4 linked regions of the Homo sapiens genome follow. The protein of the gene in region 3 interacts with the protein of the main gene of each other region in a biochemical or structural test. Each region holds a gene or a part of one and is shown on either strand. Other genes may lie near its edges.

Region 1 (7,027 bases), on a different chromosome or scaffold from region 3:
AACAATACAGTGAGACCCTGTCTCTACAAAAAAAAAAAAAAAATATATATATATAGATATATAAATACATACATTGTGAGAAACAGTAAAATGATTTTTTTAAAAAGAAAATGAAAATAACTTATACTTATCATATTGCCCAAGTAAAACAAGCATTTAGAAAAAAAAAAGTATGGTATATTTAAAAATGTTAGATCTATTGTTTTATGACAGTCAGTTTAACTTACCTTATAATTCATTTATAATTTAGAAACTGAGATGTTGAATAAGAACACACTGTTCTTGTTTTAATAGTATATATAATCTGAAGAAAAATGATTCTGAAAAAACAAAGTATATTAATAACATACTAACATTCAGAGTAAGAGACATATAGCAAGATTTTATAAATTATCTTTAATCATATAAAAGGCTGTTTAAAAAGATCTAATGGCAGATTAAAAAGAGAATTATGAATATTTTAAAAACAAAGGTACCACCCAAAGAAATACATAAAATTTATCAGAGGCAAACACTGCCAAACATAAGACACCACTTAAGCAAGAATACTGTTCCCTTGAAGGGGTGAAGAAGGCTTCTATTATTAGCAGAGATAACTGCCTGAAATTCTTTCCTTAATAACACCATACTAAAAATAAAAAGGTTCATCATATTTCAAAATAAACACATTGCTTTTCATACGCATTTCAATCACTTCAATAACAGATAAAAATAAAAGCCTGATTTAAGGTTTACATTTCTCTTATATTTGTAGTTGATAAATACACTAGGTAGATTTGCTCTCATTTTTATAACATATTTAATGCTTTAAGGGTCTTGTGCCAGCCACTTACTCATTATTTCTTAAAGGATTTGAGATTAGATCTTCCTGCTAGGTCAAATTAAATTATCTGCTTGGCTTCAAAAATTATTAATACTTCCTCTACAAAATATTTTCTCTATCATTTAGGAAACCACAGGAATCTCAGAAGAATAAATGGGGTGGTATTATTATTACAAAGCAGTACCAAATGCTTTCAAGAAAGCTAACATGGACCACAAGGTAAGTGGACATTTTGGGATGTTTTTACAAAAAGAAGCAAGATAAAGCATGGTTGTGTCAGCATGAAAAAGGGAGAAAGCTCATGGAACTGAGGTAATTACCTCAATATATGACCAAACTACAAAATCCTTTCTAATTTATATGGATATGTTAAGATAAAGTTTGGTAGAAAAGCATTTTTAGCTCAGAGTGTATTATCTGAACTGAAAATATATGTATAGCCTCATTTTGGTTCTACTACAAGTGGACCAGGACTTTAAAATGACCCATTCATACTAAATGCCATCTGCTGCCCACACTTTCCCCCTTCCCAGCTTATGCCTCTTTCCTCCAAGAGTTTCTATGATGGATACCATGGGATCTGGAATACATACATACATATATATGTATGTATACAAAATATATATAATGTGTTTGTGCCTTCCAAGTGATGCACAGAAGATGGTGAAAAGTGAGCAGCTTCTAGAGAATTACAGGTTTCTGAACACATTCATTTGCAGAAATAAGACCAGAGTAAAACAAGACAGGAGGTAGTGAATTCTTCCCTCTCTCTCATCAATAAATTTCTGGTCTCAGAACCAGATCACAGATTATTCTCATAGTTCAGCTAATTGTGGGTTTAAGTACATAATGGTGTCTACATACACAAAAGTACATAAGTACTTCTGAGTGCTTTTTCATCTATGTACATTTTCTCATGTACTTCTCACAACACTAGAAGAGAACATATGGTATTATTCCCATTTTTACAGATTGAGTTTGACCACATAGCTGGTTTATGACAAAACAAAGGTTCCACACCAGGTCTTCTAAGTTCAACATACTACAGAGAGTATTTATACTACATCAGGCTGCCTTTGTGGACATACTATGAAAATAGCTACCATTTATAACATTGTTTCCTATTTAAAATACCCTTTGAAAGTCAATCAACTGGCTACACCAAATGAACAAAATCCATTCAGATATTAAGGACACAATTCAAAAATCATATAAATTATATATATATTATATATATCTATATATATCAGCAAGAGAAACCTAAATAGCACGTATTTACCTAATTGTGAGAATAATTCAACTGATTTTAATTCAATCACTAATCTAGTATTTGAGAAGAAACATAATTTCATTATTTGGAACCAATATTTAACACTTGTTTAGAATTTGCATAATTTCAAAAGTAAAATCAATTTACTGTGAATGTGTGTACATTCACTTTTATTTAACTATTACTTCCATTTCATTCTTGTTTCATTCATCTTCCATATTTGGGAAAAAGCAAATTACATGACTTAGTCATACAGGATATTGTTTTTAATATAAACATTAATAAGTATCATAAAGCACAGATAAAGTAGTCATTAAGAGCTTTCTTCAACCTAGGCAACCACAAAATAGGGGCAGATTACTACAGCTCTATCTCAATGTTGGTGTGAGAACTGAAGGCATTTCAATGGAAAGTAAGTACTTTCTAACACAGGGTGCAGAATTTACCTACAATTGCCATGCATCTCACCATCTCCACAAGTGTCATCTATCTGTATAGCATTTTATCTTTTCCAAAGCCATTTTATATACCTCAACTCATTTGATCTTCATAACTATTCCAGAAGGTAGGCAGGACAAGTATGATCATTGCCATATTACGAAGGAGGAAACAAAGGCTCAGCATCTAATGGTTTTTCCCAAAGGTGAGACAACTGGTAGTAGAAATGGAATTAATTCCAGAGCTAATACCTTCTTATACCAATGTTTTCTTCTAGAACATCAAATCATTTGTACAAGTTCTCTTTAGTCTGGTTACTAAAGGTTACTGGCAATCACTAGTCAAGATTACCTTTATAGCCTGTAATCCCAGCACTTTGGGAGGCCGAGGCAGGTGGATCACAAGGTCAAGAGAGCAAGACCATCCTGGCTAACACGGTGAAACCCTGTCTCTACCAAAAATACAGAAAATTAGCCGGGTGAGGCCGGGCGCAATAGCTCACGCCTTTACTCCCAGCACTTTGGGAAGCTGAGGCGGGCGTATTACGAGGTCAGGAGATCGAGACCATCCTGGCCAACATGGTGAAACCCCATCTCTACTACAATACAAAAAATTAGCAGGGCGTGGTGGTGCACGCCTGTAGTCCCAGCTAGTCGGGAGGCCGAGGCAGTGGAATCGCTTGAACCCAGGAGGCAGAGGTTGTAGTGAGCCGAGATCGCGCCACTGCACTCCAGACTGGTGACAGAGCAAGATTCTGTCTCCAAAAAAAAAAAAAAAAAAAAAATTAGCCAGGCGTGGTGGCAGGCGCCTGTAGTCTCAGCTACTGGGGAGGCTGAGGCAAGAGAATGGCGTGAACCCAGGAGGCGGAGCTTGCAGTGAGCTGAGATAGCACCACTGCACTCCAGCCTGGGCGACAGAGCCAGACTAGTCTCAAAAAAAAAAAAAAGATTACTTTCATATCAGTAAACACACTGAAATCACTAGTATTTCTAATAAACATGGGTTAAAACTGGTAGAATTCAGCACATTTTATAATAAGAAATGAAAGATTGAGGCATCCAAGTAAATGTTGGAAAAGTAAAAATATAAATTTTAATCATCTATATATGGCATTTCAAAAAACGTTATTTATCTCTAAATATGGACTGAAAGACATTTAAATCTTATTTTCTCAATTCTGATAAATATGAGCAGACATAGAAAATTATATCCTTGTAGGTTTGAAACTCAGAACATACTAGGCATTTTGACTTTACAGTCCATAGAGCAGAGACTTTGCAGTCTGAGAACCCTGAATTTGATTGCTAGCTCTACCACTTAATAGCACTGGAACTTTGGACAAGTTACTTAAAGTATCTGATTCTCAATTTCTTCATTTGTTAAATGGAGATAATACCAAACTTAGAGGATTACTCTGGGAATAAAAAAAAATCAAGTGCATATATCATACAGTGATTAGAATATAGTAACAACTTAATCAAATTGTACCTTTTATCACTGAAGTATTGAAAATATGTTTCCTTTTCCCCTGTTCTACATTACATCTACATTTCAGACTCAGGAACTCAAATTTTCATTAACCAGGATGAATAATTAAATATACCCATTTTTTTGGAGTTAAATCTTTTAAAAATCGGTTTAATGATAGCATTGTAAAGGACCTCACAGATTCGCTACTCCAGTGTTATCCTTTAGGAGGGGAAGAAAACAAGGCCCAGGGAGTTAAATTGTTCAGGGCTTCCACACTAGCACACAAGTCAAGCAAGGGACCAAAATACCACAGACATAACTTTTAGCTCCATCAATTGATGGGACAGTTGTGTGAAATTTGATTTATCATTTAGGACTTGATATTTACATTTCAAAATAAGGTAACACTTTTTGTTTGTTTGTTTAAGTTTTGGTTTATCCTTCCTGTTATCTCAAAAACAAGTGGGGAATTAGTAAAATATTTACTTAATTTATTGAAAGCAGTCTGTAGGCCAGTCATGTAACTATTTGAAAAATGGAAAGGGTAACTTCTTCGTGAGACTTTGCCGACAAGAAAGAACCTAAGTATCCCTTGGTGTACAATTCCAATGAAGAATATTTATTTCATAAACCACATATGGGTAAACATATTTCTGGAGTAAAATGTTGAAAAAAATTTGTTTAAATCATAAACCACATATATACTACTACTCATCTTGAAAATGCAGGCTTCTTTTTAAATAAATAATTAGCACTATAATTTTGTTTCTTCAATCAGTCTTTATATAACACAAACAACAGGACCATTCTTCTAGAATTTCTATCACCTTTAGAGAAGTTAGATAAGAAATGAACAAGTCTAATTACAAGAACTCTCTAACAGTTTTACCCTACCCAGAGTGAGAGCCTAAACAGTCAATATAGAGAAAAATTTTAAATAGATAAAAAGCATTACTTTTAAACTCTGTCAGCCCATATAATCTGTTTCCAAAAACAGTCCCTCAGCAACCTGATAATACAATAGACTAATGAAGGACAAAATTTAAAACATTTTAAATAAGGCTTTATTAACAAATACAAAGATTTCCATATACTTTTAAAAAACAAATTAAAACTACTGCTGTTAAAACTATTCCATTTTCAATTTTTGCTTTTTGTCCCTAACTTTGGTCCATAAATTGATATATCAACAACTGAAGTTAAAATTTCTTTATTTCTTTTTTTTTTTAAGACGGAGTCTCGCTCTGTCACCCAGGCTGGAGTGCAGTGGCACAATCTCGGCCCACTGCAACTTCCGCCTCCCGGGTCCAAGTGATTCTCCTGCCTCAGCTTCCCAAGTAGCTGGGATTACAGGCGCGCACCATCACAGCTGGCTAATTTTTGTATTTTTAGTAGAGATGAGGTTTCACCATGTTAGCCAGGTTGTTCTCAAACTCCTGACCTCAAGTGATCCACCTACCTCGGCCTCCCAAAGTGCTGGGATTACAGGCGTGAGCCGCCGTGCCTGGCCTAAAATTTCTAAATCTATAATTAGCATAACAGTCAAAGTTGGGCATGGTGGGACACATTTGTAATCCCAACACTGTGAGGCTGAGGCAGATAGACTGCTTAAGGCCACAAGTTTGAGAACAGCCTGGTCAACATAGTCCCTAAAAAAAACTAATTAATAAACAAATAAGAAAAAGGAAAAAAGTCAAGAGAGAAAGCACATAAAATGTTCCTTACTTCTCCATTTCCATGTTTTTATAACCATTTATCTAACTATCTATCTATCTATCTATCTTTCTATCAATCAATCAATCAATCAAAGACAGGGTCTCCCTATGCTGCCCAGGCTGGTCTTGAACCCCTGGGCTCAAGGGATCCTCCTGCCTTGGTCACCCAAAGTGCTAGGATTACAGGCATGGACCACCACACCTGGCCAAGCTTTTAAAATTACATCATCTCCTATTAGCTTTTTTAGTAGAAATTCATTTTGCAATGTCTAAAATCTACAACAATTAAAAATGCACCTGCATTCAACAAAAACTGCTGAGACAATTGGTTATCCACATGGAAAAAGTTAACCTTACAACCTCATCTCACACCATACATAAGAATTAACTCAAAATAGATCACATAGTTAAACATCAGGGCTAAAATAATAAAATATTTACAAGAAAACATAAAAGAAAATCTTTGAGACTTGGGCTAGGCAAAGATTTCTTGCCTATGACATCAAGAGCATAGTCCATAAAATAATTTTAAAAACTAATAAATTGGACCTCATGAAAATTCAAAACTTTTATACTTCAAAAGACACAAGAAAATGAAAAGACACAACAGACTGGAAGAAAATATTTGCAAAATATATCCATTAAAGGATCTGTATCCACAATTTACAAAGAATCCTCACAACTCAACTTATAAGATGACAAGTAACCCAATTAGAAAATAAGCAAGAGATATAAACAGACATTCCATCAATGAAAATACATAAATGACTAGTAATTACGTGAGACAATGTTCAACATCATTAGTCCTTAGGGAAACGCAAAATTAATGCCTCAATGAGATACTATTTCGCACCCACTAGAATGGCTATAATAAATCAGGCAGACAATAACAAATGTTGGCAAAGATACTCAGAAAAGGGAACTTTCATACATCTTTGATGGGAATGTTATAAAATGGTGTGACCATTTTGGGAAAGTGTTGCAGTTTCTCAAAAAGTAAAACATAAAACTACGATATGACCCAGCAATTCTACTTCTAGTTATTTACCCAAGGTGTATGAAAACATATGTCCACACAAAGACTTACATGTGAATATTCGTAGTGCCATTATTTATAATAGCCCAAAACTTGAAACCATGACCATCAACTGGTTTTGTATAGACAAAATGTGGCATATCCACACAATGGAATATTATTCAACTATAAAAAGGAACAAATTAATGGCACATGCTATGTCATGCATGAATCTCAAAAGCATTGTTAAAGAAGCTCGACACAAAAGATGACATATTGAACGATCACGTTTATGA
Region 2 (5,982 bases), on a different chromosome or scaffold from region 3:
CATCATCAGAAAACTGGCCTGATCCCTCCAGAGGCGGGGTGGGGGGAGAGGTGAGCCCTTGTTCCTCGGCCCCCAGGCTTGAGGGGCAGGGATTGCAACGGAGCCCAAGCAGCTGGTCCAGGGAGGAGGGGACCACGAACTCCTGACCCAGGGGGGCGAGGACCTGCCACAAATAGGGAATTTAAACACTCACTGGGCACAGTGGCTCACGCCCGTTAAGTCCAGCACTTTGGGAGGCCAAGGTGGCCTGACTGCTTGAGCCCAGGAGTTTGAGACCAGCCTGAGTCACATAGTGAGACCCCCATCTCTACAAAAAATGCAAACAATTAGCTGGGTGTGGTGGCACACACCTATAATCCCAGCTACTCTGGAGGCTGAGGCAGGAGAATTGCTTGAACCTAGGAGGCAGAGGCTGCAGTGAGCTGAGATCACGCCACTGCATTCCAGCCTTGGTGACAGAGTGAGACTCTGGCTCAATAAAATAAAGTAAACACACTGAGATGCAAGAAAGAAATTGTTTTTATTGCATTGAGGACTTTTCCAGAAGCCTGGTGGACCCACGTCTCCCTCCAGCCCCAAAGGCAGTGCAAGCCTCTACTGATCCCCCACTTCAAGGTGGGTCTCCCCTCCTGCAGGGCCCATGGAGGAGGGGTAGGGTGGGCTGTAGGGGGCCCAGAAGGGAGGCCCTGGGGACAGAGGGAGTTCACTCCTGTTTAAGCTGGAGACCAGGGAGGGCCCAGCCTCACCTCTGGACAACACAGCAAGTCAGAGGCTGGGGTGTGGCAGGGGCTCACCTGTCACCTCTGGGGTGTGGCTTCTTCCCGGAACCGCACCAGAGGCCCCTGGAGCCCAGGGAGGGACCACGGAGGGCAGGTGTAACCCCTGGCCTGGAGCACAGCTCTCAGAGCCCTGAGGCTCCCGGGGACAGAAACAAGTAACAAAGTGAGACCACGAGAGAAAAAGAATCCACAGTTTCTACAAAAAGCCCCACCCTCCCCAAGCACCCTGGTCAGCTGGGGACCGCCTTGGCCTTCACCCTTTTGGGGGGTCTGTGGGGGGCAGGGCTGGTGGGCCGCTCCCGTTTGGGGCTGGCGGGCTCTGAGCCGTTGTGCTGGGCGCAGGGCTCCTGCTTGGGGCCGGCGGGGATAGAGCCGTTGATCCGGGTGGGAGATTCCTCCTTGGGCTCCAGCTTGGGGGTGGGCGGGCGGGGCAGGGGTGGCAGCGCCCTCTCCAGCACACGGGGGCCGTCCCAGGCGGGGATCTCCAGCCCCAGGTGCTTCATGAGCCGGGTCATGACCTCGTCAACGTAGCCATGGATGCGGAGGTCAGCATGGCGGTCCTGCCGAGGGGCGGGACGGGTCAGGCGTGGGGGACAGAGGGTGCATGGTGGCCCTGGGCAGGGGTAGGCTCAGACACCTACGTGCTTGGTGGGCTGCAGGTTGACGATGACCAGGCGGCCTCCCCGGCGCTTGGTAGCCAGCGGCAGGTTCCCGCTGGGCCGGATCTGCAGCGATGTACCCAGCGTGATGGACAGGTCGGCGTTCCTGGGGCCGGGGAGCGTGGGCTGAGCCTGATGCCCTGCTCCTGCCAACATCCCGAGCCAGCCCTGGGGGCCGGTTCACACCTAGGCCATCTGTGCTCACCGGGGCGGTCAAGGCCAGCCCCACTCCCGAGTCAGCCTTTGGGATCCCGCCCTGCCCTCCTCTGCGGTCCGTTGGCGGGGTCATTGATCTGGGCGGGCCCTTAGACACTTCCGGGGAGTATCACAGTGTGGTAAGAGCTTGGACACCTAGGGTGGGACCCTGGCTCGGTCACCTCCCGGCTGGGCAGCACTGGATAGAGGAGACACCTGGCGGAAGCCTTGGTTTCCTTGTGTAGCACCCACCCAGAGCCATGAGGTGACGAGTGTGTGTGAGTGCGTGTGTGCAGCCCCTGGCCTGGCCCACCTGCTCCAGGAAGCCTCCCCTCACTGCCTGTGAGCCTCAGCCACTGTCCCATGCTGGAGCTGGCTGTGTTTCTGCTGTCGTCCCGCCCCGCCCCACCATGGGCTCCCTGGGGGTGGGGGGTCAGACCTGCTGGCCTCATCGGCGAGTGCCAGGTCCCGGTCGGGCAGGGAGTCCTCCCAGTCTAGGATGGTGTCCCTCAGCTCTCCCCTGCAATGAGGAAGCTGAGGAGAGTCCTCAGGGGCCTCGCAGCCTCCCCTGGAGCCCAGGGCATGGGTGGGGGTGGCTCACCTGCAGGCTCGCAGCCCCCTTGCCTTAGCCACGGTGCAGAGCCGGCCCGTGGCCTTCAGGCCCATGGTGCCCACGACTGTGTCTCGGACGTACTGCCTGTGTCAGGGAGGAAGGGGGAGGATGGGACCAGGTGAGCTCCCATGGGTGACTCTCGCACTGTTTCTAGGGTGACGTTCTCCCAGGGAGGTGGGGGGTGGACAGGTGACCAGAACTAGCACCCAGCGACACGGAACGAGTAGCCTTCCATGAATAACGGGCTGGGATGCTGCTCGGTGCCCGGAGCACAGAAAACAAAGCAGGAAACTGTCCCAGACAGACGAAGGGGCTCGAGAGACAAGACCCAGCATGGGATCCCGGACCAGGAGAAACAGGAACAATTGGAGCATGGGGGCGACAGGCCGAGTCTGGATTCGGGATTAGAGAAGGCGATGTCCACTTTACTTTTCCTGACTTTAATCGTTATACTGGGCCGGGCGTGGTGGCTCACGCCTGTCATCCCAGCACTTTGGGAGGCTGAGGCGGGCAGATCACAAGGTCAGGAGTTCGACACCAGCCTGGCCAATATGGTGAAACCCCGTCTCTACTAAAAATACAAATATTAGCCAGGTGTGGTGGCGGGCGCCTGCAGTTGCAGCTACTTGGATGGCTGAGGCAGAATAATTGCCTGAACCCGGGAGGCGGAGGTTGCAGTGAGCCGAGATTGCCCCACTGTACTCCAGCCTGGATGACAGAGCGGGACTGTCTCAAAAAAAAGGAGAAACACAGAGATAAGAAGGCCCCTGTGGCTGTAGGTCCAGGACCACCAAGGGTGGCTGGCTGCCACCAGCAGCCAGGAAAAGGCAGGAAAAATCCTCCCCTACAGGTTGCAGAGGGGCATGGCCCTGCAGACACCTGGATTTTGGACTTCTGGTCCCCAGAACTGTGAGATCACAAATTTCTATTGTTCTACGCTGCTCATCTGTGGCAGGTTGCTACAGCAGTGCCAGGACACGGATGTACCCCCCACAGGAGGGAGGCACGGCCCCCCCAAATCCCTCCAGGAGGAAGACATGCCCCCCAAATCCCTCCAGGAGGGAGACATACTCCTTATATCCCCCCAAGAGGGAGACACGCCCCCAGATCCCCCCAGGAGGGCCACACCCCAGTCCCCCCATACCCTCTGGGTCTCTGGGACATCGGATTCGACCCCCAACCCCCTCTGGCAGAGCCCCCACCCCTGCACCCAGGTGGCACTCACGTCTTACACTTGGCACATTCTTCCACAAACATGTTCCCGTGGAGCTCTGCCAGTTTGTCCCTGTGGGAAGAGCAGGAAGAGGCTTGATGGTGGGAAAGGATCCCTGGATGCCCAGGCTTTGGAGCTGGTGCTAAGCCCCTCTCCTCCAGGAAGGCTTCCCGGACTCCTCTCCCACAACATTGATCAACTCCTTCTTTCTGGCTCTTCTAGCTCCTGGCTCCACCATTCATCTGCTGTGCATCTCTGGGCAAGTGGACCAACCTCTCTGAGCCCAAGGAATCATTAACCCCCAAGGCTGAACCCACCTTAGATAACGGGAAGCCCTTTCCACTCACAAAATGCCCGTCCCCCTCCGAGAGCATATGGGAACCTCTTGATGTCACCAGGTCAGAAGCACAGGAATTCAAATTCCCAGTTTATAATGGAAGAAACCGAGACATTGAATGGCCCTGAAGCATGAGATCCAATCCCAGCTTTATTTTATTTATTTATTTATTTTGAGACAGAGTTTTGCTCTTGTTGCCCAGGTTGGAGTGCAATGGTGCAATCTCAGCTCACCACAACCTCAATGGCACAATCTCAGCTCACCACAACCTCTGCCTCCGGGGTTCAAGTGATTCTCCTGCCTCAGCCTCCTGAGTAGCTGGGACTACAGGCGCCCGCCACCACGCCGGGCTAATTTTTTGTATTTTTAGTAGAGACAGGGTTTCACCGTGTTAGCCAGGATGGTCTCGATCTCCTGAGCTTGTGATCCACCCGCCTCGGCCTCCCAAAGTGCCGGGATTACAGGCGTGAGCCACTGTACCCAGCCTAATTTTTCTGTTTTTAGTAGAGACGGGGTTTTACCATGTGGCCGGGATGGTCTCGATCTCCTGACCTCATGATCCGCCCGCCTTGGCCTCCCAAAGTGCTGAGATTCCAGGCATAAGTCACCACACCTGACCCTCCTTTGCTTTTTTTTTTTTCAAGACAGAGTCTTGCTCTGTCACCCAAGCTGGAGTGCAGTGGCGCCATCTCGGCTCACTGCAACCTCTGCCTCCCGGGTTCAAGCGATTCTCCTGACTCAGCCTCCCGAGTAGCTGGGATTACAGGCATGCGCCACCACGCCCAGCTAATTTTTGTACTCTTAGTAGAGATGGGGTTTCAACATGTTGGCCAGGCTGGTCTCGAACTCTTGACCTCGTGATCCGCCTGCCTCGGCCTCCCAAAGTGCTGGGATTACAGATGTGAGCCACCATGCCCGGCCCCTCGTTTGCTTTTATAAGCAGAGAAAAATCTCTTCCTCACCCCTCACCCCTGGCTGCCGAGCTCCTCGTCTCAACAACTGACCTGGCTGTCATTGGTTGCCCCAGGGGTGAGACCTGGCAAAGAGGGGCAGGGGAGGGCCACACTTTTATTGGGAAATCAGCCTGCCCCAGAGCACAGGTTCACTTCAGTGTCAGACACGTTTAGTGTCAGATTAATAAAGATGGATATTAAAAACACAACAGGCCAAGCGTGGTGGCTCACACCTGTAACCCCAGCACTTTGGGAGGCTGAGGCGGGCAGATCACCTGAGGTCAGGAGTTCAAGACCAGCCTGGCCAACATGGAGAAACCCCGTCTCTACTAAAAATACAAAATTAGCTGGGTGTGATGGCGCATGCCTGTAATCCCAGTTACTAGGGAGGCTGAGGCAGGAGAATCGCTTGAACCTGGGAGGCTGAGCGGAGATCACGCCATTGCACTCCAGCCTGGGCAACAAGAACGAAACTCGGTCTCAAAAACAACAACAACAACAAAAAACAAACTGCAACTTCTAGACCCTGACAGCTCTCCTCCCCTTAGCCCCATCTCGAGGGAAATTCTGCCTCTGGCCTCAGCCGGGACAGCTCTGAGCCATGGGACTCAGAGATCTCCACACACTGGGCCAAGAACTCAGGGCTAGAATCTTATAGAACCAGGAAAAGGGGACTCTCCCCCTAAAAATGCAAACACGGTTTGTGGGGCCCCAAGCTCTTTTGTGGGGGCGGGGCCAGGGTGTTACCTGGGGAAGCCTGAGCGCACATGGAGCCCGTCCACGTTCTGGCTGACCAGGAAGCGGAGGAGGCCCACGCGCTCCAGCTGCACCAGCGCCATGTGGGTCTGCGTGGGCCGCGCGCTCTCAAAGGTGGTGTCGAACTTGGGGGCCAGACCTCGCTCCTCCATGGTCCAGACTCCGTGGGGACCCCTGAAGGTGGCAGGCCGGGAGAGATGGACGGGGAGAGGGGAACAGAAAAAGAGACAGAGGGAGAATCAGAGAGGTATAGAGAGAAAGTTGGAGAGAGAGAAAATCAGGAGACAGAGAGAGACAGGGAGACAGAGAGAGGGAATCAGAAACAGAAATAGAGGGTGAGTTGCAAGAACAGGGAGAGGGGGATAGAACAAGACACAGACAGAGAGATAAAGAGTTAAAGACAAAGCAAGTCAGAGACAGAATTGGAGAGAGACAGAGAGAGGGAGAGGCAGAGAGAGAGAGATGAATTCACACGAA
Region 3 (7,424 bases):
TTTTTTGAGACGGGAGTCTTGCTCTGTCGCCCAGGCTGGAGTGCAGTGGCATGATCTCGGCTCACTGCAACCTCCGCCTCCCGGGTTCAAGCGATTCTCCTGCCTCAGCCTCCCAAGTACCTGGGACTACAGGCGAGCTTCACCACACTCGGCTAATTTTTGTATTTTTAGTAGAGACAGGGTCTCACTATATTGGTCAGGCTGATCTCGAACCCCTGACCTCAAGTGATCCACCCACCTGCGCCTCCCAAAGTGCTGGGATTACAGGCACGAGCCACCGCGCTGGCCTGTAAACATTTTTAAACTGTAACTTTTTCCACCTCCCATTATTCTCAGTGACAAATTTAACTTTAACAAGTCAATTTTAAAATAAGACCTTCAATTTGCAGTTGTTATTCCCAACATAAACAAGTAATATACATACCATGACGCTTAATATCTGATAAACAATCAGTATTTGCTGAATGAATGAATGGCCATTAAGGCTGCAAGACTCTTAGGACAGTAGGCAACCAAGTAAAACAAATTTATTAAAACGCTCAGAATGACTGGAGCAGGAACCAGTAACTAAATCCTGTCATACATGATTCCATTACTTGTTTGCATTACTATTCTTTTAAAATGAAAATTATGAGAAATCGGCCAGGCGCAGTAGTGGCTCACGCCTATAATCCCAGCACTTTGAGAGGCCGAGGCGGGTGGATCACCTGAGCTCAGGAGTTTGAGACCAGCCTGATCAACATGGTGAAACCCGTCTTTAATAAAAATACAAAAAATTAGCCAGGCATGGTGGTGGGCGCCTGTAATCCCAGCTACTTGGGAGGCTGAGGCAGGAGAATCGCTTGAACCCGGGAGGCAGAGGTTGCAGTGGGCCGAGATCATGCCACTGCACTCCAGCCTGGGCGACAGAGCAAGACTCCCGTCTCAAAAAAAAAAAAAAAAAAAAAAAAAAAAGAGCGAAACTCCATCTCAAAATAAATAAAAAAGTTTATAGGTTAATAACCACAGCACTCCAGCCTGGGCAACAAGAGCCAAATTCCAACTCAAAAAAAAAAAAAAAAAGAAGAAGAAAATTATGAGAAATCAAACTATTTCCTTTGCTACTTTCTCCATGCTAAAACTTAAAAGCATTTAAATCATACTTTAAAAGAATAAACCCAAAGTGTTGCTAACATTTACGTTCCGCCAACTTTTGCTACTCCAATTTTCTAAAGATGTGTATAACGCTTTAGACTGTTGTATAAAACGTAAATACTGGGACAATGAATGCAAACGAAATTACAATTAAGTTTACATATTATCCATCCCCATTAATTAACATTTCAATCAACCTTGAATTGTGATTGATGCTTATTAAATAAAGGAAGTGAGCTATGCCTAAAGATGCTTTCTTCATGTCAAAATCACAAGGAATATTACACATTAATTCATAATGAGCCTTTTACTTGTTCATACCAATTCTAATAAGCTAGTTAATTAGGATTTAAGTTGAGAAAAAAGCAAATATCAAATCTTTTTTTTTAACAGAAAGGTCTAAACAAAGCTAAATACACCAAATCTCTTAAAATCTTTGGGCTATACATTTGTAAAAATTATTCAACTACTGATCCCTTTTTTGGCGCAAAGACCTACACTACTTACAAAAGTAAATGAATAAGGGAACAAAACGTTAAAGGGGGAAATTCTGATGCAAACTAAACTACAGCTAATTTAACAAAATTGAAGCTTGTCGTAAGATCTAATTTTTTAAAAAGTTTTCGCATTTTAGATTCCACAACACGCATTCATTACAATAGTTCCGAAAATCATGTTTCAAAAGAGGTGTAGTCAGATTGACTTCATCTGCAGAAGGGCAACAAAACCCAATTGCTCATGAAGGGTTATGATTTTACTCGCAATCAGTTTCCCGAATGGCTACTTTGTTTCATTTCCCCATATTTAATACAAATACACAATGAGATGGTTTAAAAGTGTGCAACAATTTATAGGGACCAGATGTCAACAAATTAGCAGTCTAAAGCAAGGCTGACAAATAATACATCATGCCGATTTTTGTCCAGAATAATTATAATGGCGGAGGGGGGAGAAGATGTGAGAGAAGGGGTGGGAGAGGGGAATAAGAGCTTAACTCTACACGCACATCTCCCAAAAAGAGCTCTTTCTTTCCACCACGGGATTATTGTAAAGGGCCCCCAAGCTTTAGCTACTGTTCAGGCAGGGTGCGTTAGTTGTCAGCCTGGCTGGGATGGATTCGTGCAAGGGATGTCACTCAAACGCAAGTGAAAGTACGGTCCTTGCGACTTATTTCGAGTTTTCTTTGCAACAGCAGCCCAAGGCCGCTACTCTGCTACTTCTATCTAAAAAACAGAAAATCGGCAACCCCCGCATCATCAATCAAGCTGAGAAAGGAAGCTCTTGGGGCAAAGGGGCAACAGGGCACCCCCAAATCTCTGAGGCTCGCTCCAGGCAGAGGCAGCAACCTGAGCTGCTCTGGGGCCCCTGCGCTCCAGGGGACTCCCGGAGCCCCCGGGCCGCCTCCCCCGGCCGGCGCGGCGGGGAGGGCCCCACTCCACACCCCGGGCTCGCCCCGCGGTCCAGCCCCAGGGAGGTTAACCCCTTCGGCGCCCTCCACGCCCTCCCCAAGCGGGGCCCGGAGCCCCCGCCCTTCGACCTCCCCGGGACTAGGGGGTCCGGGTGGCTCAGGGGACGAAGGCGCGGCGGGCGCGGAGGCGGCGGGTGGCTCCGGCCTAGGCCCGGGCAGCGTGTCCCAGCGCCCTCCCCCACTCCCACACGCTCGCTCCGGGCAGGGCGCGGACGCCCGCCCGCCGCGGCGTCCGCCCGCCCGGGGCTCGGGCCCCTTCCGGCCGAAGGCGCAGACCGGCGGCTACCTGCGGGCTGTGGAGGGCCATGGCTGCCCGTTTCATTGGGACTCCGCGATCCTCCGGCTGCTCACGCTGCTTCCCCCGCCGCCGCCATCTTCTCGCCCGCACATACACACTCGCATCGGCCGCCGCGCCTGCGCACTGGCCGCGCGCCGCGGGGCGCGGGGAGGCCGGCCCGCTGCTGCGCCTGCGCGGCCGACAGGTGGGCGTGCGCCTGCCGGGCCGCGGACATCCCCTGCCCCGCCTGGAGCCTGCCGGACTCTGAGCCCCGCGACCCTCGGGCGGAAGCGGCCGGGCGGCTGCACACCAGGAGCCCGCCGAGGCCTGGCTGTGGATCCGGAAGGGGAGAGGGCAGGCAGGTAGAGGTGGCAACGCCAAGGCGCCGGCGGGCCCGGCTCCTCACCTACTGGGGGCCACCTGGGCCCCCGGAGCCCGGGAGTCGCGGGCTGAGGTCGGCCTGGGGCCCACGAGCCGCCCTCAGCGTACCTGGGCCCGGGCCTCGGGAGTGTTCGCATTAGATCCCCGAGGAGGGTCTGGTTTATGAAGATCCCGTTGCCGCGCATTCATTCATTTGTTCACTCTTCATTCACTCCCCAAGTCCTGCCTGGGCGCCTGGGCCACGCCTTTGGCTAGGCATTAGGGGAAAAAAGCAAAACAGACAAAAACAAAACGTAGGGCATAAAAGCACGCGTAAAGTGCTTGACATGAGGCCTGGCAAGTAGCAAACACTCAGCAAGTGCTACGTGTTGCACACGTGCGTGCGTGTGCACGGGCAAACCAGCCTTGGGGGTCGTTGGTTCATTCATTATTAAGAAACAGGGGCCCCTGCCTAACTGCACTGTTTTCCAGCCAGTGGGTCCACCCTTGGGTTTTGGCCCCTTTTCTAGCTGTGATTTCAGACAAGCGACTTTCCTTCCCTAAGCCTTGGTTTCCTCACCTGTGAATAAGACAAATATGTCATAACGCGTAAGATTTCTGTGAGGTTCAAATTAGATTAACGTGAGCACACTGGCCAAGAGAATAGTCAATAAAAATTGGCTACTGGGATTGTTATTAATAACCATTACTATTGGTTTCATTTATTCAACAAACACCTACAGAGAGTCTGCTCTTGCTAGACCGTACACTGAGCAGAGGAGATGAACAGGAAGATCCATTCCCACGTTACATAAAATAGGGAGCCTGGTCTCTTCATAAATGGGATGCCATGAAAAATATAAGTGGGCCAGGCGCAGCGGCTCACACCCGGAATCCCACACATTGGGAGGCCGAGGCGGGCGGATCACTTGAAGTCAGGAGTTGGAGACCAGCCTGGCTAATATGATGAAACCCCAACTCTACTAAAAATACAAAAATTGGTGGGATGTAGTGTGGCACACCAGGCGTCCCAGCTACTCAGGAGGCTGAGGTGGGAGGATCACTTGAACCCCGGAGACGGAGGTTGCGGTGAGCCGAGATCGTGCCACTGCACTCCAGCCTGGGTGACAGAGCGAGTCTCTGTCTCAAAAAAAAAAAAAGAAAGAAAGAAAGAAAGAAAAGAAAAGAAAAATATAAGTGGTAGGGAGGGGTTGTTCCAAAATAGAAGAGCTAGAAAACATAACCAAATACAATGTGTCATCTTGCTTGGATCCTGATATGTCTTTTAAGCTGGTTTTACTATTTGTTGACAATTGGAGACATTTGAATATGGATTGGATATGGGTGATCTTCGTGAATTATTGGTAATTTTATAGTGTAATAATTATACTGTGCTCACTGAGAGAATGTCCTTATTGTGAGGAGATGCATTCTGAAGAGTTGAGGAGTGAAGGCCATAATGCCTGTAAACTATTGTTTAATGGTTCAACAAAAGATAAAATCATGTACACACATAAACATTCAGGGAGAGACAGCAAATATGGCAAAATGTTTACTATTGTTGGCTCTAAGTAGTGCTATATATTTCAGCTTTTCTCTATGTTTGAAAATTTTTATAACAAAAAATTGGGGAAAACAATACAATATAGTGTCTGTGCTATAATTTTAACCATGGAAAAGCGATATCTGCACTTGGATAGAAACTGGGGGACGTGAAAACTCACTAGTGATTTATGGTTGTCTCTCTGGCTCGGTGCGGTGGCTCACACCTGTAATCTCAGCACTTTGGAAGGCTGAGGTGGGTGGATCACCTGAGGTCGGGAGTTCAAGACCAGCCTGATCAACATGGTGAAGCCCCGTCTCTACTAAAAATACAAAAATTAGTCGGGCGTGGTGGCAGGCGCCTGTAATCCCAGCTACTCAGGAGGCTGAGGCAGAAGAATCGCTTGAACCCGGGAGGCAGAGGTTGCAGTGAGCCGAGATGGCACCATTGCACTCCAGCCTGGACAACAAGAGTGAAACTCTGTCTCAAAAAAAAAAAAAAAAAAAAACATATATATATATATATATATATATATATATATATATATATATATATAGTTGTTTGTCTGATTTTTATCATACAGTTGCTTGAACAACAAATAAAAGTGATAATAAACAAAAGATCCCAGGCCAGGCACGGTGGCTCACGCCTGTAATCCCAGCACTTTGGGAGGCTGAGGCGGGTGGATCACCTGAGGTCAAAAGTTCGAGACTAGCCTGGCCAACATGGTGAAACCCCGTCTCTACTAAAAATACAAAAATTAGCTGGGCATGGTGGCGGGCACCTGTAATCCCAGCTACCTGGGGGGCCTAGGCAGGAAAATTGCTTGAACCCGGGAGGCGGAGGTTGCAGTGAGCTGAGATCACACCATCTCACTCCAGCCTGGGGGACAAAAGTGAGACTTTGTCTCACAAATAAATAAATATATAAATAAATAAATAAAAAAGATCCCAGTCTTCATTTTCAAATAATTCACATAGATATGAACACATACCTTCAGTACAAGGAAATAGATGTTAAAAGGAAGCTATGAACAAGCACTATGGCCTTCAGTGCTTAGCAGAGCCTGGTGATATACTTCGGCTGTGTCCCCACCCAAATCTCATCTTGGATTGTAATAATCCCCACGTGTCAAGAGTGGGGCCACGTGGTGATAATTGAATCATTGGCGTGGTTTTCCCCATACTGTTCTCATGGTAGTGAGTAAGTCTCACAAGATCTAATGTTTGTGTGTGTGTGTGTGTGTGTGTGTGTGTGTGTGGTTTTTTTGGTTTGTTTGGTTGTTTTTTTGTTTTTGTTTTTGTTTTTGTTTTTGAGACAGTCTTGCTCTGTCGCCCAGGCTGGAGTGCAGTGGCAGGATCTCAGCTCACCGTAACCTCCGCCTTCTGGGTTCAAGTGATTCTCCTGCCTCAGCTTCTGGAGTAGCTGGGACTACAGGCATGTGACACCACGCCCGGCTAATTTTCGTATTTTTAGTAGAGATGGGGTTTCACCATGATGGCCAGGCTGGTCTTGAACTCCTGACCTCAAGTGATCTGCCCACGTCAGCCTCCCAAAGTGCTGGGAATACAGGCGTGAGCCACCACGCCCAGCCTCTAATGGTTTTACAAATGAGAGTTCCCCTGCACAAGCTCTCTTGCCTGCCGCCATGTTAAGCGTGACTTTGCTCCTCATTTGCCTTCCGCCATGATTGTGAGGCCTCCCTTGCCATGTGGAACTGTGAGTCAATTAAACCTCTTTGCTTTATAAATTACCTAGCTTGGGTATGTATGTCTTTATTAGCAGCATGACAACCGACTAATACACCTGGTATCTCCCATGAGTCTGGGGACAGTGGCCTAGGCCTGGAGTCAAGACAGGCCCAAGTTCAAATCTGGAATCCCCCACTCACTAGCTGTGTGAACCTGGGCAAGTTACCTACATTTTCTGTGAATCTTTTGTAGAAGGTGGTGTGATGGGCAGAATAATGCCCCTCCCCTCAAAGATGTCCATGCCCCAACCTCAGAACCTGTGGATATATTACTTTACATGGTAAAAGGAACATTGCAAATGTGGTAATGTTAAAGGCTTTGAGATGGATTATCCTGGGAAATAACCTAATTATGACATGACTGGTGGGTCCCAAGTAATCACAAGGGTCCTTATGAGGGAAAGAAGGAGGGGCAAGAGAGTCAGGTCACAAGGAGATGTGAAAATAGAAGCAGAAAGAGAGAGGGAGAGATTTGAAGATGCTGCGCTGCTGGTGCCACGAGCCAAGGAATGTGGGTGGCCTCTAGGAGCTGGAAAAGGGCAAACATTTTCTGCTAGTGCTGCCAGAAGGAACATAGCCTTGCTTACAGCTTGATTTAGCCCCGTGAGTCTTCTGAGCTACAGAACTTTAAAACAAAAAACTTGTGTTGATTTAAGCCGGTAAATTTTGTTCCAGCAACAATAGGAAACTATGACAGGGGAAGCAACACTACCTGTTCTATAAGCCTGTTGCTAGGAGGAGATGAAGTAATGGAGCTAGCACATGGAGTGTGCTGCCTGGTGCTTTTATTTTTTTATTTTTTTGAGACGGAATTTCACTTTGTCGCCCAGGCTGGAGTACAGTGGCATGATCTCAGCTCGCTGCAACCTCCGCCTCCAGGGTTCAAACGATT
Region 4 (7,027 bases), on a different chromosome or scaffold from region 3:
CAAGGGGTGGCAGGATGGCTCATGCAGAACAGCTCACACCAGCCGAGAGGCCTGGCCATCCCGGAGGCTTGGGAAGAGAGGGGACAAGGACAAAGCCACCCCTGGGAGGCTGCCTGACCTGGGTGGGGGAAGCAGAGGATAGCAGGTGGTGATGGTCTGTAAAGGCAGTTGCAGCAGGACTCTCCACGGAACTCGGAATGCACATGCCAAGCCCCACAGCTGGCAAAAGTCAGGGTGATTCTGATGTACAGCTCCCCCACCACAATCTAATACCACAGAATCTCATGGGACCTGTGTCTACAAACGTACTGAAACCTAAGCGCCCTCTGCCTCTGTGGTCTACAGCAACTCCTGAAAGGCATCCCGTGGCCAGGTGACACTGCAAAGCAGACAGGTGCTTGGAGCAGTTTGGGGATGACAAAAGTACTAAGATGACGTCTCCCAGCCTCTAACTGCTCATGTGTCTTGTGGCTGTCCCAGGGCACTGAGGGCTGACTGGGCACCAGCGTCATGTGGAATAGTTTGGGAAGTAGGAAAGAGACATGCTGGCCTGAGAGGTCCAGATGGACAACTATATATTTCTGAGGGGGAGCACTGACATCTGGAGTTGAGTCCAGGCCACTGGATGATGAAGACCTTACTTCCTCTGGGGACTGAGAAGTTTTCATGATTCACTGGGAACTGGAGATCTCTGCGGTAAGACAGTGCCTAAAGGTTCCCCTGCCAACAGCTGATGCAGCCCTTCACTGTCCCTCTCCCACTGCCCTATAGGCCCTGGCTGTTCCCTACAGTCCCTTTGGCAGAGCGCAAAAATGGCCCTACTTATCTCGCTCATCTCCACCCAGCCCCACTGCACTGTGCCTGTCAGTCCTCCCGTCTAGGGAGGGAGTCTATTTCCCTACTCCTTGAATCTAGGCTGGCCTTATAACTTGCTTTTGCCCACAGAATGGAGCACAGGGGACACTGTGCCAGTTTTGAGCCCTCTCTGAGAACTCTGCCCAGCTGCCATGATGGGTTTGTGTGCTGGAGGATGAGAGACTACATAGAAGAGAACCAAGGTGCTCAGCAAACAGCCAGAGGCAGAACTTATGTATATACCGGTGAGTACTTGAGAGGAAATTCAGCCAAGACCAGAAGAAATGCCCATGTAGGTAGCCCAAATGCCTGACCCACAGGATCATATGCTAAATAAATGGCTGTATTTTAAGCTACTAAAAAAAAAATTTGGAAAACTGGAGTGGACTATTTGTTACACAGCAAATGCTAACTGATACACCCACTAAGGAACTGGTTTGCTTCCTGGGTTGAACTCCCTTTATTCCCACCTTGTCTCCTGTTCAAGGAAGCCAGATGGGGCAACTCTAATTCTTACCCTCACTTGAGAGATCAGAAGGACCCTATAATTCCAGATTCCATGCATACCTGCTGTGTGGGTACTGCCCAGTTCTGTGTCCTGCTCCTGATGCCCGCTGGAGGTCAGAGGGCTGAGGGCTGCCAGGTCAGAGGAGGACTCCAGGGGGCCACCATCTGGATTCCTTGGGATGGCTCTGGGGCTGAGCGTCTGCAGGGCTTGCTCTGAATTCTGCAATGAGGGAAAATATGAATAAGGCAGTTGCCTCTCCCAAGAGCTCACAAAGGGCAGCTTGTGCTCTTGGGGCATCTCCTATAGGCCTCAGCCCACACCATGGAGCACAGGAGCCAGGGGAGCCCTTGCCTGGGTTCTGGTAATTCCCAGACCCTCTGTCCACAGGTGTCCTTACGTCTACCTCACAGAAAACACACAGCATTGCCAGGTGCGGTGGCTCACGCCTGTAATCCCAGCACTTTGGGAGGCAAAGGTGGGCAGATCACCTGAGGTCAGGAGTTCGAGACCAGCCTGGCTGACACGGCAAAACCCCATCTCTACTAAAAATACAAAAATTAGCTGGGCGTGGTGGTGGGTGCCTGTAATCCCAGCTACTCAGGAGGCTGAGGCAGGAGAATGACCTGAACCCAGGAGGCAGAGGTTGCAGTGAGCCAAGATCACTCCACTGCACTCCAGCCTGGGTGACAGAATGAGACACTGTCACACACACACACACACACACACACAAAACTGTGGTCTCCCAGCTGGTTGCTGACAGAGGATTAGGGCTGCCACAGGGTGAAGACCTGGTCAGCAGCCTGGAAGCTGGTCTGGGGCAGATCCCCACTGAGGAAGCCCTAGGGTTCTGAGCAGAGATTAGGCGTGATTTATAGGGGACGGGAGAGGGTTTCTGGAAGGCTCAATGGGCAGAAGTGGGCAGATAGGAACACAAAAGTGGTGGCTCAAGGTAGACTATGAGGACAGACCTCTCCTGGGGACTCTGGCGCCTGGGTCTCCTGGACAGGCATGGGGTAACTTGGCTCCTTCTCTCTGCAGCTGTTGTAGGGGATGCTGTGGGCCGCAGCAGGTGTGGGGGGCCCTGGCCTCTCAGCAGGAAGTGACGGTGGCTCCAGTGGGTCTGGGGGACGGTCCGAGGTCCCTAGAGGACAAAGATGTAGTGATATCAAGAAGGAATCAGGGCTGGGCACAGTGGCTCATGCCTGTAATCTCAGCACTTTGGGAGGCCAAGGCAGGCAGATCACGAGGTCAGATCGAGACCACCCTGGCTAACACAGTGAAACCCCATCTCTACTAAAAATACAACATTATTATTAGCCGGGCATGGTGGCGGGCCCCTGTAGTCCCAGCTACTCAGGAGGCTGAGGCAGGAGAATGGCGTGAACCCGGGAGGCGGAGCTTGCAGTAAGCCAAGATCGCGCCACTGCACTCCAGCCTGGGCGACAGAGCGAGACTCCGTCTAAAAAAAAAAAGAAAGAAAAAAAAAGAAGGAATCAGGGGCTGGGCACGATGGCTCATGCCTGTAATCCCAGGATTTGGGGAGGCCAAGGCAGGTGGATTAGGAGGTCAGGAGTTCAAGACCAGCCTGGCCAACATAGTGAAACCCCGTCTCTACTAAAAATACAAAAATTAGCCAGGCGTGCTGGCAAGCACCTGTAATCCCAGCTACTCAGGAGGCTGAGGCAGAAGAATTGCTTGAACCTGGGAGACGGAGGTTGCAGTGAGCTGAGATCGCGCCACTGCACTCCAGCCTGGGCAACAGAGCAAGACTCCGTCTCGGGGGAAAAAAAGAAAAAGAAGCCAGACGTGGTGGCTCACGCCTGTAATCCCAGCACTTTGGGAGGCCGAAGTGGGTGGATCACCTGAGGTCGTGAGTTCGAGACCAGCCTGACCAACATGGAGAAACCCTGTCTCTACTAAAAATAACAAAATTAGCCAGGCGTGGAGGCGCATGCCTGTAATCCCAGCTACTCGAGAGGCTGAGGCAGGAGAATTGCTTGAACCTGGGAAGTGAAGGTTGCCATGACCTGAGATTGCACCATTGCACTCCAGCCTGGGCAACAAGAGCGAGACTCCGTCTCAAAAAAAAAAAAAAAAAATAGAAGGAATCAGGGACTATAGGGAGGCTGAGGAAGGAGAACCACTTGAACCCGGGAGGCAGAGGTTGTGGTGAGCCGAAGTCATGCCACTGCACTCCAGCCTGGGCGACTGAGCAAGACTCTGTCTCAAAAAAAAAGGAATTGGGGGTTCTCCTCATGATTAAAGAGGCTTGGGTGCTCTTGGGTACACCCCCCGCCCCACCCATAGGTCCAAAAGCTGTTCTGATGTGGGCCCACTCCTCAAGAGTGACAAGCAGGGCTGGGCTTGGTGGCTCACGCCTGTAATCCCAGCACTTTGGGAGGCCGAGGCGGGTGGATCACGAGGTCAGGAGATCGAGACCATCCTGGCTAACACGGTGAAACCCCATCTCTACTAAAAAATACAAAAAGTTAGCCGGGCATGGTTGCAGGCGCCTGTAGTCCCAGCTACTCGGGAGGCTGAGGCAGGAGAATGGCGTGAACCCGGGAGGCGGAGCTTGCAGTGAGCTGAGATGGCACCACTGCACTCCAGCCTGGGCGACAGAGCGAAACTCCATTTCAAAAAAAAAAGGAGTGACAAGCATCACTTGGCAAGGGGGCAGGAGTGGGAGGGTGAGAGCAGATGGAGGACAAGGTAGCAAGGGAGGAAGGGGAGTATGGGGGGGCCTCGTGGGTCTCTAGTCACCCACGCCGTGTCAGCAGTCACTCTTCTCTGTCCCCAGGCATCCTAGGACCCAGTGGCTTTCTCCTCCACATGACTATCATTGCTCACTGACCCCTGCCCTGATGCTGCCACCTGAGCCCCTCCCCTTTGCCCCCACCCCTCATCAGGCCCTACCACAGCCATTGTATTCAGGGGATCACTATTTTTGGGTTTTTTTTTTTTGGAGACGGAGTCTCACTCTGTCATCCAGGCTGGAGTGCAGTGGCGCAATCTCGGCTCACTGCAACCTCCACCTCCCCGGTTCAAGCAATTCTCCTGCCTCAGCCTCCCAAGTAGCTGGGATTACAGGCTTGCACCACCATGCGCAGCTAATTTTTTTGTATTTTTGGTACAGACAGGGTTTCACCATATTGGCCAGGCTGGTCTCGAACTCCTGACCTTGTGATCCGCCCGCCTCGGCCTCCCAAAGTGCTGGGATTACAGGCGTGAGCCACCGTGCCCAGCCAGGGATCACTATTAATCTCCACACATGAAGAGACATATTTAAAAAGAAGGAAGGAAAAAAAGGAAGGAAGAGAGGAAGGGAGGGAGGGAGGGAGGAAAAGCAAGGAAGGGAAAAAGGAGAGAAAAGCAAGCATGAGAGCCAGACGCGGTGGCTCACACCTATGATCCCAGCACTCTGGGAGGCCGATCGCTTCAGCCCAGGAGTTTGAGACCAGCCTGGGCAACATAGTGAGATGTCATCTCTACAAAAAATTTAAAAATTAGCCAGGTGTAGTTGTCCATGCCTGTAGTCCCAGCTACTCTGGAGGCTGAGGTAGAAGGATCACTTGAGTCCAGGAGGTCAAGGCTGCAGTGAGCTATGATTGCACCACTGCACTGCAGCCTGGGTGGCGCAGCAAGACTCTGTCTCTAAAAGGAAAAAAAAAAAAGAGAGAGAAAGAAAAGAAAAACATGGATGTCCCACAGCTATAAATGTGACCAGGGTCTCGGGGGTTACCTCTAGTTTGAAATATAAATAGGGCTGGCTTGATTTTTTTTCCCATGTCTTTTTTTTTTTTTTTTTGAGATGGAATCCCACTCTGTCGCCCAGGCTGGAGTGCAGTGGCGCGATCTCAGCTCACTGCAACCTCTGCCTCCCTGGTTCAAGTGATTCTCCTGCCTCGGCCTCCTGAGTAGCTGGGACAACATGCCCGGCTAATTTTCTGTATTTTTAGTAGAGACGGGGTTTCACTGTTTTAGCCAGGGTGGTCTCCATCTCCTGACCTCATGATCCGCCTGCCTCGGCCTCCCAAAGTGCTGGGATTACAGGTGTGAAACACCGCGCCCAGCCTCCTCCCATGTCTTGATCTCACTCAGGATCAAACTCAATCTCATCAAATCGCCTCCGAGCACTCAGAGTGGCAGGGACACTGAGAGGGACTTAAAGAATAACTGGGCAGCTGATAGAGGGCGTCGAAGGCTCTCAGGGTAAACCAGGGGAGGGGAAGAGAAGGAGGAGAGAGGGAGGGTGAATGAGTAGGTGGGGGAGAAGAAATGAGGAAGGGTGGGAGGCGAATGCTACAGCCGTGAAAGTTAGGGGAGACTCCATGTGCTGGGCATACAGGAAGTGCCCAGCCCAGCTCAATACTCAACACGCATCGTCCCGCAGTATCACCCACTGCAGCTCCCCGCGGCAGATGCTGCCATGAGCTTCATTTTACAGAAGAGAGGCCTGAGGCTCAGGGAAATTAAGGGACTTGGCCAAAGGGACACAGCTGGTAAGTGGCTCAGCCTGGATCTACACCCAGGTTTATTCATCGCTTCACAGTGACAAGAAAGAGGATGACAGAGAAAGGCAGGAAGTACAGGGAGAGAGAAAAGGAGAGCGGAGGCCAGGGAGCAGGCTGGGGGTCCAGGAGGGCAAGGGCAGGACGCTCACGAGGCTGGTAGCTCTGGTAGACAGAGGCCACTTCGTCCGCGAGATCAACTAGCTCACAGCCCCTCAGTGCCGCAATGAAGTACTCCACCCAGCCGGGCCGCCGCTGAAGGGTATTGAAGAGATGCCAGAGGGTGTCCCGGTTCCCTGAGAGTGTGCAGGTGGCCCGCAGTCGATCCTGGAAGACACAATGCCACTGTCCTGCTCAAGCCAGGTGGCCCCTGCCACTTCCCCACCCAGAATGAAGCCACAGCGGGGGGAGGGGTGCCAAGAAAGCCACAAGGGCAAGGCAGCCACGTGAAACTGGATCGGAGCCCAGGACAGGGCCAGGTATGGAGTGAGGAAGAGCAATTAGCAGCCACATCAATAAAGGCAGCTGCCGGAAACTGGCAATTAACTATGTCCTGGGCTCTCCATTAAGGGCTTTGCATGTATCATCTTTATTTAATGCCATTATTATCTCCACTTTACTAATGAGGAAACTGAGGCTTAGCAGAAGCAAAGTACTGTAGCAAAGATCCTAAAACAGTGGGGCAGGAATCCAAACCCAGTTAATCTGATACAAAAGCCTTGGATTAATATGGCCCCCAGGGCAAAAAGAAAGGTTTGGATTAGGAGAGAAGGAAAAGGTAGATAGCAAAAGTATGATGAAAGGGGCAAAAGACGGAAAGAGAGGGGGCCGACAATAACAAACAAGGAAGCTGAGAATGCTGGGGAGATTGTGGGCAGATGACAGTGGCTGCAGAGTTTTTTTGTTTCTTTTTTTTTTTTTTTTTTCAGACGGAGTCCCACTCCGTCGCCCAGGCTGGAGTGCAGTGCCGTGATATCAGCTTACTGCAACCTCTGCCTCCTGAGTTCAAGCGATTCTCCTGCCTCAGCCTCCCGAGTAGCTGGGATTACAGGAGCCCACCACCACACCCGGCTAATTTTTTTGTATTTTTAGTAGAGACATGGTTTCGCCATGTTGGCCAGGCTGGTCTCGAACTCCTGACCTCAGGTGATCC

What was found.
Region 1: the proteins of USP10 (region 3) and PRKAA2 form a complex in vitro, tested with the Homo sapiens proteins (one study listed by BioGRID).
Region 2: the proteins of USP10 (region 3) and SIRT6 form a complex in vitro, tested with the Homo sapiens proteins (one study listed by BioGRID).
Region 4: of the proteins of USP10 (region 3) and MAVS, one has a biochemical effect on the other in vitro, tested with the Homo sapiens proteins (one study listed by BioGRID).

Annotation. Positions count from the first base shown.
Region 1 is NC_000001.11:56,648,297-56,655,323, reverse strand, and holds part of PRKAA2 (5'-AMP-activated protein kinase catalytic subunit alpha-2), read right to left. Parts: intron 1-7,027. UniProt on the Homo sapiens protein: Catalytic subunit of AMP-activated protein kinase (AMPK), an energy sensor protein kinase that plays a key role in regulating cellular energy metabolism.
Region 2 is NC_000019.10:4,173,608-4,179,589, forward strand, and holds the end of SIRT6 (NAD-dependent protein deacylase sirtuin-6), read right to left. Parts: intron 5,680-5,982; coding exon 5,497-5,679; intron 3,532-5,496; coding exon 3,472-3,531; intron 2,331-3,471; coding exon 2,235-2,330; intron 2,154-2,234; coding exon 2,073-2,153; intron 1,545-2,072; coding exon 1,421-1,544; intron 1,340-1,420; coding exon 1,010-1,339; 3' UTR 502-1,009; downstream 1-501. UniProt on the Homo sapiens protein: NAD-dependent protein deacetylase, deacylase and mono-ADP-ribosyltransferase that plays an essential role in DNA damage repair, telomere maintenance, metabolic homeostasis, inflammation, tumorigenesis and aging.
Region 3 is NC_000016.10:84,695,576-84,702,999, reverse strand, and holds the start of USP10 (ubiquitin carboxyl-terminal hydrolase 10), read right to left. Parts: upstream 3,001-7,424; 5' UTR 2,925-3,000; coding exon of another isoform or gene 2,910-2,924; coding exon 2,889-2,909; intron 1-2,888. UniProt on the Homo sapiens protein: Hydrolase that can remove conjugated ubiquitin from target proteins such as p53/TP53, RPS2/us5, RPS3/us3, RPS10/eS10, BECN1, SNX3 and CFTR.
Region 4 is NC_000020.11:3,856,809-3,863,835, reverse strand, and holds part of MAVS (mitochondrial antiviral-signaling protein), read right to left. Parts: intron 6,202-7,027; coding exon 6,027-6,201; intron 5,018-6,026; exon of another isoform or gene 4,894-5,017; intron 2,505-4,893; coding exon 2,332-2,504; intron 1,583-2,331; coding exon 1,423-1,582; intron 1-1,422.